2 linked regions of the Homo sapiens genome follow. Changing the gene in region 2 together with the main gene of any one other region gives a genetic interaction. Each region holds a gene or a part of one and is shown on either strand. Other genes may lie near its edges.

Region 1 (3,653 bases), on a different chromosome or scaffold from region 2:
ACTGTGGGCAGTGGAGCCTCCAGTGGAAGCCAGGCCTCCTGGTTCCCATGCCAGGGTGCGGTCCACCCATCATGCATCCTGAAATCCCTGGGAGAGCCCGGAAGCACAAGAACAATGCAGCTCCCCAGGCCGACCCTACTGCCAGGTCACAGGAGAAAGGCAGCACTGAGGGAGACCCAAGGCAGGCAAATGACACGGGACCCAGGACATGGACCCATGCAGGCTGATTCCAGTTTCTCCACAGTCAGCTCATGCATCGGATATGAACCACACCAGGAGATGACGTCACTGACGCCTGCAAGTCACCCGAGTGCTCAACTGCCTTTTCTGTTATTTTCTAATTTTTAATTTTTACAAGCAAGAGCTGTCACTCCCGTTTCTTTTCTTTTCTTTTTTTTTTTTTTTTTTTGAGATGGAGTTTTGCTCTTGTTGCCCAGGGTGGAATGCAATGGCACAATCTTGGCTCAATGCAACTTCCGCATCCCGGGTTCAAGCAATTCTCCTGCCTCAGCCTCCTGAGTAGCTGGGATTACAGGCATGCGCCACCACGCCTGGCTAATTTTGTATTTTTAGTAGAGACAGGGTTTCACCATGTTAGCCAGGCTGGTCTTGAACTCCCGACCTCAGGTGATCCGCCCACCTCGGCCTTCCAAAGTGCTGGGATTGCAGGCGTGAGTCACCGCACCCAGCCCACTCCCGTTTCTGACAGGTAGAGCCCCCCACCCCATTCCCACCTTCATCCCCACAGTGCAATGTGGAGGGGTGTGCTTGCGTAATCTGGGCTCACAGTGCGTTCGCTCTGGAACACCAGTAGAGGAGCTGGGTGAGCACAGGAAGGAAGGCAGGGCAGAAGCGTGGGGTTGGGGCATGGACAGCCGCTGCGGGAACAGTGGAGGGAGGCCGGGGCACCAGGTGCTTGTGCCCTGCACCGCAGCTGTTGCTGGTGCACAGGGGCTTTGTGTCATCCAAGTGCTGTGGGCAATGGGAGGATGTGACCAGCCCCCAGGCTGTCCTCGGTCCTCAGTCCTATGGCTGTTACCTTCCCCCAAAGCTCCCAAATCCATCATGGCACCCCACCTCCCTGGCCACCGCCCTCTTCCAGCCTCCCCTCCAGATCCATCACGGCACCCCACCTCCTTGGCCCCCACCCTCTTCCACCCTCCCCTCCAGATCCATCACAGCACCCCACATCCCCAGCCACCACCCTCTTCCACCCTCCCCTCCAGATCCATCATGGTACCCCACCTCTCCAGCCCCCACCCTCTTCCACCCTCCCCTCCAGATCCATCACAGCACCCCACATCCCCAGCCACCACCCTCTTCCACCCTCCCCTCCAGATCCATCATGGTACTCCACCTCTCCAGCCCTCACCCTCTTCCACCCTCCCCTCCAGATCCATCATGGCACCCCACACCCCCAACCACCGCCCTCTTCCGCCCTCCCCTCCAGATGCATCATGGTACCCCACATCCCCGGCCACCGCCCTCTTCCACCCTCCCCTACAGATCCATCATGGCAACCCACCTCCCCGGCCTCCACCCTCTTCCACCCTCCCCTGCTCCTGCTGCTCTCTGAGCCCACTCTCCTCCAGCAACGCACTCGCTACCGAACAAGCCTGGCCCTGTCACTCCCAACTCACCCCCACCCCAGGGCTTCCCACCACCCTTAGGTCCAAGAGCCAAGCCCCTAATACGCGTATCTCCCGGGCTGCCCTCCGTCTGCTCGCCTCGCAATCTTTGTGCTCAGATGGCCCTGGCCTTAGCTTCTTGAGTGCACCTGCTGGCCACAGGGCCACTGCCGGGCTGATGATCCTCCCACCCCAGGCTCCAGGCAACTCCCACACAGCCTTCAGCTCAAGTGTCACTTCCTCAGCAGCTGAGGGCCGGTTCCTCTGGGACAGCTGTCATAAAGCCATGTTTCCTTTCCATCTGTACCAGGACTGCAGTGAGATGACCGTCTCACTGATCTCGGGCTCCCCCTCCAGACCATGGCCCCATGGGAGCGGCCACCAGCTCTGGCTGTGCTCACTCCTGTGTCCGCAGCACCTGCTGTGGGGCCCAGCACTTGGCAGGCCTGTGATAAACACCCACGGGAAGATGAAGTAGACCTTGCACTGATCCCAAAGGAATGCCTGACACTAAGCAAGTTCAAGCTCAGACTGAGGCAGGAGCTGCATTTATTTTTTATTTATTTATTTGAGACAGAGTTTCGCTCTTGTTGCCCAGGCTAGATCATGCAATGGCACGATCTCAGCTCACTGCAACCTCTGCTTCCAGGGTTCAAGCGATTCTTCTGCCTCAGCTTCCCGAGTACCTGGGATTACAGATGCCCGCCACCACACCCAGCTAACTTTTTTATATTTTTAGTAGAGACAGGGTTTCACCATATCGGCCAGGCTGGTCTCAAACTCCTGACTTCAAGTGATCTACCCGCCTTGGCCTCCCAAAATGCTGGAATTACAGGTTTGAGCCACTGCACCCAGCCAAGCTGCATTTACTGAACACCTGCTATGTGCCTGAAACTGCACCCAAGGCTCACCATTCATGACCCACTCAGTCCTCTGAGGGCCCATCAGGGGAGGGGCAGGAGGGATGCCCTAGCCCTCAAAGACGACGACAGCCCAGGTGATCTCCCAGGCGCCTCGCCACAACACTTGGAAGTCAGGACCTCGTGTAGGGAGCAGTCCTGGGGTGTATGGAGGTGCGCCGATCAGCAGACGCCCAGCTCCCATGAGCCGCGCTTGCTCTCAGAGGCCTCCCCGCTGACCCCAACCACCTACCACCCCTGGGCCTTCTCCTGGACGGACAGCTGCCTCAGCACCTCCATGCCGGGCCAGTCTCACACAGGACTGGCTGTCCAGGAGTGACGTGTCCTTGGGGTGATATACCCACCTGGAAGGGCCTTGTCAGTGGGCCCCTGGCTATTTCTGTGGGAAGCCCTGTGTCTGAGAGGCCAAGGATCAGACACTGACATGTGGTCTCTCTGATCGAGGTGCTGCCCTAGGAAGACCTGTCCTGGGTAAGTGAGCACCCGCCCCGGTTCTCAGTGATTCCTCCAGAGTGCCGCAGACCTCAAGGCAACCCTTACCAGGCCATGTAGGTCAGAGAGCACTGGACCCTCACAGAAAACACCTGGAGCTGGCAATGTCCCCATCCTGCAGATGAGGAAACAGTCTCCGCAACGAGAAGCTGCTCACCACAGGCAGCGGAGGAACCTGGAGGAGTCTCACCACACAGCCCCTGCCACATTAGCTTCGTTCCTTCGTCCTCCTGAGGGCCCCAGCAGGCCAGGCAGTCAACAAGAAGCCTCTCTAGGGCTACTGCCCAGCGCCAGTGCTGAGGGCCCCCTGCTACTTCTGCAGCGCTCCTGCAGGTGGCAGCTCCCGGATCCTCTGTCCACCCTCCCTCGAGCTCAGAGGCGCCCTGCAGAAGGTGGTGCCAGCACTGCCACCGAACTGAGAAAGGCACAGAGTACAAGCGCCTGCAGCCACAGCTCACCGCCACAGACTCCAGGGCGGGGCCTCTCCTATCCACCACCGCCCTCTCCAGACACCAAGGGCAGACAAAGGGCAAGTCAAACCATAAAGCTGGGGGCACGCCCTGCAAGCCATGCACAATGGTGGCAGCATGTGCTAGGCATGGTGCTCTTGGGT
Region 2 (3,500 bases):
ACCCTGGTGTACACCACAATCAGGATAAAGTTTACGCTCCTTAGCAGGGCATTCAGGCCTTCGTGTATGGCCCTAACTTAGCTTTCTAGCCTCATTTCCTACCACATCCAACCACTCTCTTTACACTAATACATTGGGCTCTTTTAGCTTAAGTGCAAAAGCATCTGCTTTTCTCTGCTTTGCTTTGCTCAAAGCTTAAGGAAAAGTAGTCCAAGAGTCAATTTGCAAATCTGCTGAGGGCTTTCCCTTATAGTCCAGGAACACCTCACAGCTTCTCTGAGACAACTGCCAAATCCAACTTGCTGCCACTGCTAATGACAAAGATGCCCTCCTATAGCAGGACTGCCCTGTGCAGTTTACAACAGCACTTCAACTCCTATCCTGTCATTGGCTCTCAAATACTTGAGAAATGTGTAGGCATGTATTACTCCCATTCCAGAGATGAGGCGGCAGTCCCAGAGAGGCAGCGTGTGCTTGGAGTCACACAGCCAGTAAATGATGATGGGTCTGACTTCAAGAGCCAATGCTTTCTTCATATGACAGTATCAGGAGCCGGGTCACTGGCATGCACTTGATATTCCAGCTACCTGGGAGGGTGAGGCAGGAGGACTGCTTGAACCCAGTTCAAGACCAGCCTGGAGAAGATACCCTGTCTCTATTATAAAAATAATTTAAAAAAAAATTTTAGGGGCTGGGTGTGGTGGCTCACATCTGTAATCTCAGCACTTTCGGAGGCTGAGGTGGGTGGATTGCTTGAGCCCAGGAGTTCAAGACCAGCCTGGCCAACATGGTAAAACCCCATCTCTATTTAAAAAAAAAAAAATTCAAAATAAGAAAAAGCAAACAAAAGAAAGAGCATCAGGAGACATAGGTATAGGTACGATTAGGAAAAGGAAGGCTGGCCGGGTGCAGTGGCTCGCCTGTAATCCCAGCACTTTGGAAGACCGAGGTGAGTGGATCACCTGAGGTCAGGAGTTTGAGACCAGCCTGGACAACATGGTGAAACCCCGTCTCTACTAAAAATACAAAAATTAGCCAGGCATGGTGGCAGGCGCCTGTAATCCCAGCTACTCAGGAAGCTGAGGCAGGAGAATCACTTCAACCTGGGGGGTGAGGTAGAGGTTGCAGTGAGCCAAGATCGCACCACTGCACTCCAGCCTGGGTGACAGAGCGAGATGTCGTCTCAAAAAAAAAAAAAAGGCCATCCTAGCAGCCTTCATGTACAAAAAGCCAGGCAGCTTTTCCCTTCAAAGACCAGTCCTATTTATCTCCCCTGGTCTGGAGTGTTATGGCTGTGGTGCAGTGGGCTATCATCACACTGGAGCCTGTTTGACCAATGGCTGAGTTTTATGGGCCCGGCCAGTCTCCATGGCTGCTGTCTCACACAGCTCTGTGCTCAGGGCAGAAGGGAGGGGAGTATGAGGCAATCAGTCAGCAGCGGAATGAGAACCTGGCTCTACTCCTCGGATGGTGCCTGAGTGATATGGTTTGGCTCTGTATCCCCAACCAAATCTCATCTTGTAGCTCCCATGATTCCCATGTGTTGTGGGAGGGACCCGGTGGGAGATGACTGAATCATGGGGGTATGTCTTGCCTGTGCTGTTCTCGTGATAGCGACTAAGTCTCACGAGATCTGATGCTTTGAAAAATGGGAGTTTTTGACCGGGAGTGGTGGCTCATGCCTGTAATCCCAGCACTTTGGGAGGCCAAGGCAGGTGGATTACCTGAGGTCAGGAGTTCAAGACCAGCCTGGCCAACATGGTGAAACCCCGTCTCTACTAAAAATACAAAAGTTAGCCGGGCGTGGTGGCAGGTGCCTATAATCCCAACTACTCAGGAGGCTGAGGCAGGAGAATTGCTTGAACCTGGGAGGTGGAGGTTGCAGTGAGCCGAGATCACACCATTGCACTCCAGCCTGGGCGACAAGAGCAAAACTCCATCTCAAAAAAAAAGGGAGTTTTCCTGCACAAGCTCTCTCTTTTTGCCTTCCGCCATCCACGTAAGAGGTGACTTGCTCCTCCTTGCCTTCTGCCATGATTGTGAGGCATCCCCAGCCACGTGGAACTGTGAGTTCTCCACTAAACCTCTTTTCTTTATAAACTGACCAGTCTCAGGTATGTCTTTATCAGCAGTGTGAAAATGGACTAATACACTGAGCATCTTCCCCAATCTACTCAGCGCCATGAGATGACTCACCTCTGGTGCTGTAGAACCTGTAGCAAGGTGCTCTTGGCAGGCACCCGGTATAGTTCTGCCCTGTCCTCATCCTCAAAGTAGACCTGCAAGATTAACAGAAGGGCAAGAGTCAGAGATAAAGGCTTCGGCAGCCTTAGTTGAGGCTAAGCCCAGGGAAAATTAAAAAGATGGCAACGGTTAGTAGTTGAATGCCTCCTTTATATGGTTGTGTAGCTGGGTGCTTTGCATTTAGTACCCCCCCGCCATGCCACTGTAAAAGAGGCTATTATCAGTTCCATCTTCCAAAGACAGAATCAAGGCTCAGAGAAGAACAACAACTTGCCAACATTACCCTGCTGGTAAACAGAAGAATCAAGACTCAAGGCCAGGCCTATGTAGCCCTCCTTTCCCTAACAAATCAGACTAAAGCCATCAGGTATGTGGAGGAGAAAGCTATGGTGGCTCAGAGAAGGAAAGAGCCTGAAGAAGGAGAGAAGGATGTCTGTGCAGGGTGTCAAAGCCCAAGCAGGGTGAGGAAGACGCCTGCACAGGAAGCTCCCGGGGGTGTCAGAGCAGGACCAGTGAAGAAGAGCATCCATGCTGGGGGCCAGCAGGCCTGAGCAGGGGAAGAAGTGCTCCCTTGTAAGATGGCTGTCCAAGGTGGGGTGTCAGAGGCCATGTGGGGTGAAAAGGGTATCCATGCATGGGGACAAGTAATATGGAGTTTACAGGCCCAACTAGGGTGAGGAGGGTGACCACTCATGGCAGGGGGTGGCCTGCTGTAGGGTGTCAGAGCCCAAGCAGGATGAGGAGGATGTCCATGTAGGGTCGTTGAGCAGTGTGGGATGTCAGAGTCTGTGCGGGGTGAGAAAGACGCCCACGCTGGGGCAGCAGCGTAACATGTGGAGTCAAGAGTCCAAGTAGGGTGAGGAAGGCTCCACATAGGAGAGGGGCCAGTGGTGATGACAGGAGGGGAACTGATCAAACAAATAACTATATTAAGAATAATAAAGTCAGGCCAGGCATGGTGGCTTATGCCTGTAATCTGAACACTTGGGAGGCTGAGGCAGGTGGATCACTTGAGTCCAGGAATTCAAGACCAGCCTGGGCAACATGGTGAAACCTCATCTCTACTAAAAATACAAAAATTAGTTGGGCACGGTGGCAAACGCCTGTGGTCCCAGCTACTTGGGAGACTGAGGTGGGAGGATTGTTTGAGCCCAGGAGGTTGATCTTGGCAGTGAGCCAAGATCTCCCTACCGCACTCCAGCCTGGGCAACACAGCTAGACTCTGTCTCAAAAAAACAAAAACAAAAAAAGAACAA

The links.
Region 1: changes in TTC4 (region 2) and NSMCE1 together harm fitness less than expected from each alone (positive genetic interaction), as found in Homo sapiens cells (one large-scale study listed by BioGRID).

What each region holds. Positions count from the first base shown.
Region 1 is NC_000016.10:27,227,394-27,231,046, forward strand, and holds part of NSMCE1 (non-structural maintenance of chromosomes element 1 homolog), read right to left. Parts: intron 1-3,653. UniProt on the Homo sapiens protein: RING-type zinc finger-containing E3 ubiquitin ligase that assembles with melanoma antigen protein (MAGE) to catalyze the direct transfer of ubiquitin from E2 ubiquitin-conjugating enzyme to a specific substrate.
Region 2 is NC_000001.11:54,736,361-54,739,860, reverse strand, and holds part of TTC4 (tetratricopeptide repeat protein 4), read right to left. Parts: intron 2,280-3,500; coding exon 2,197-2,279; intron 1-2,196.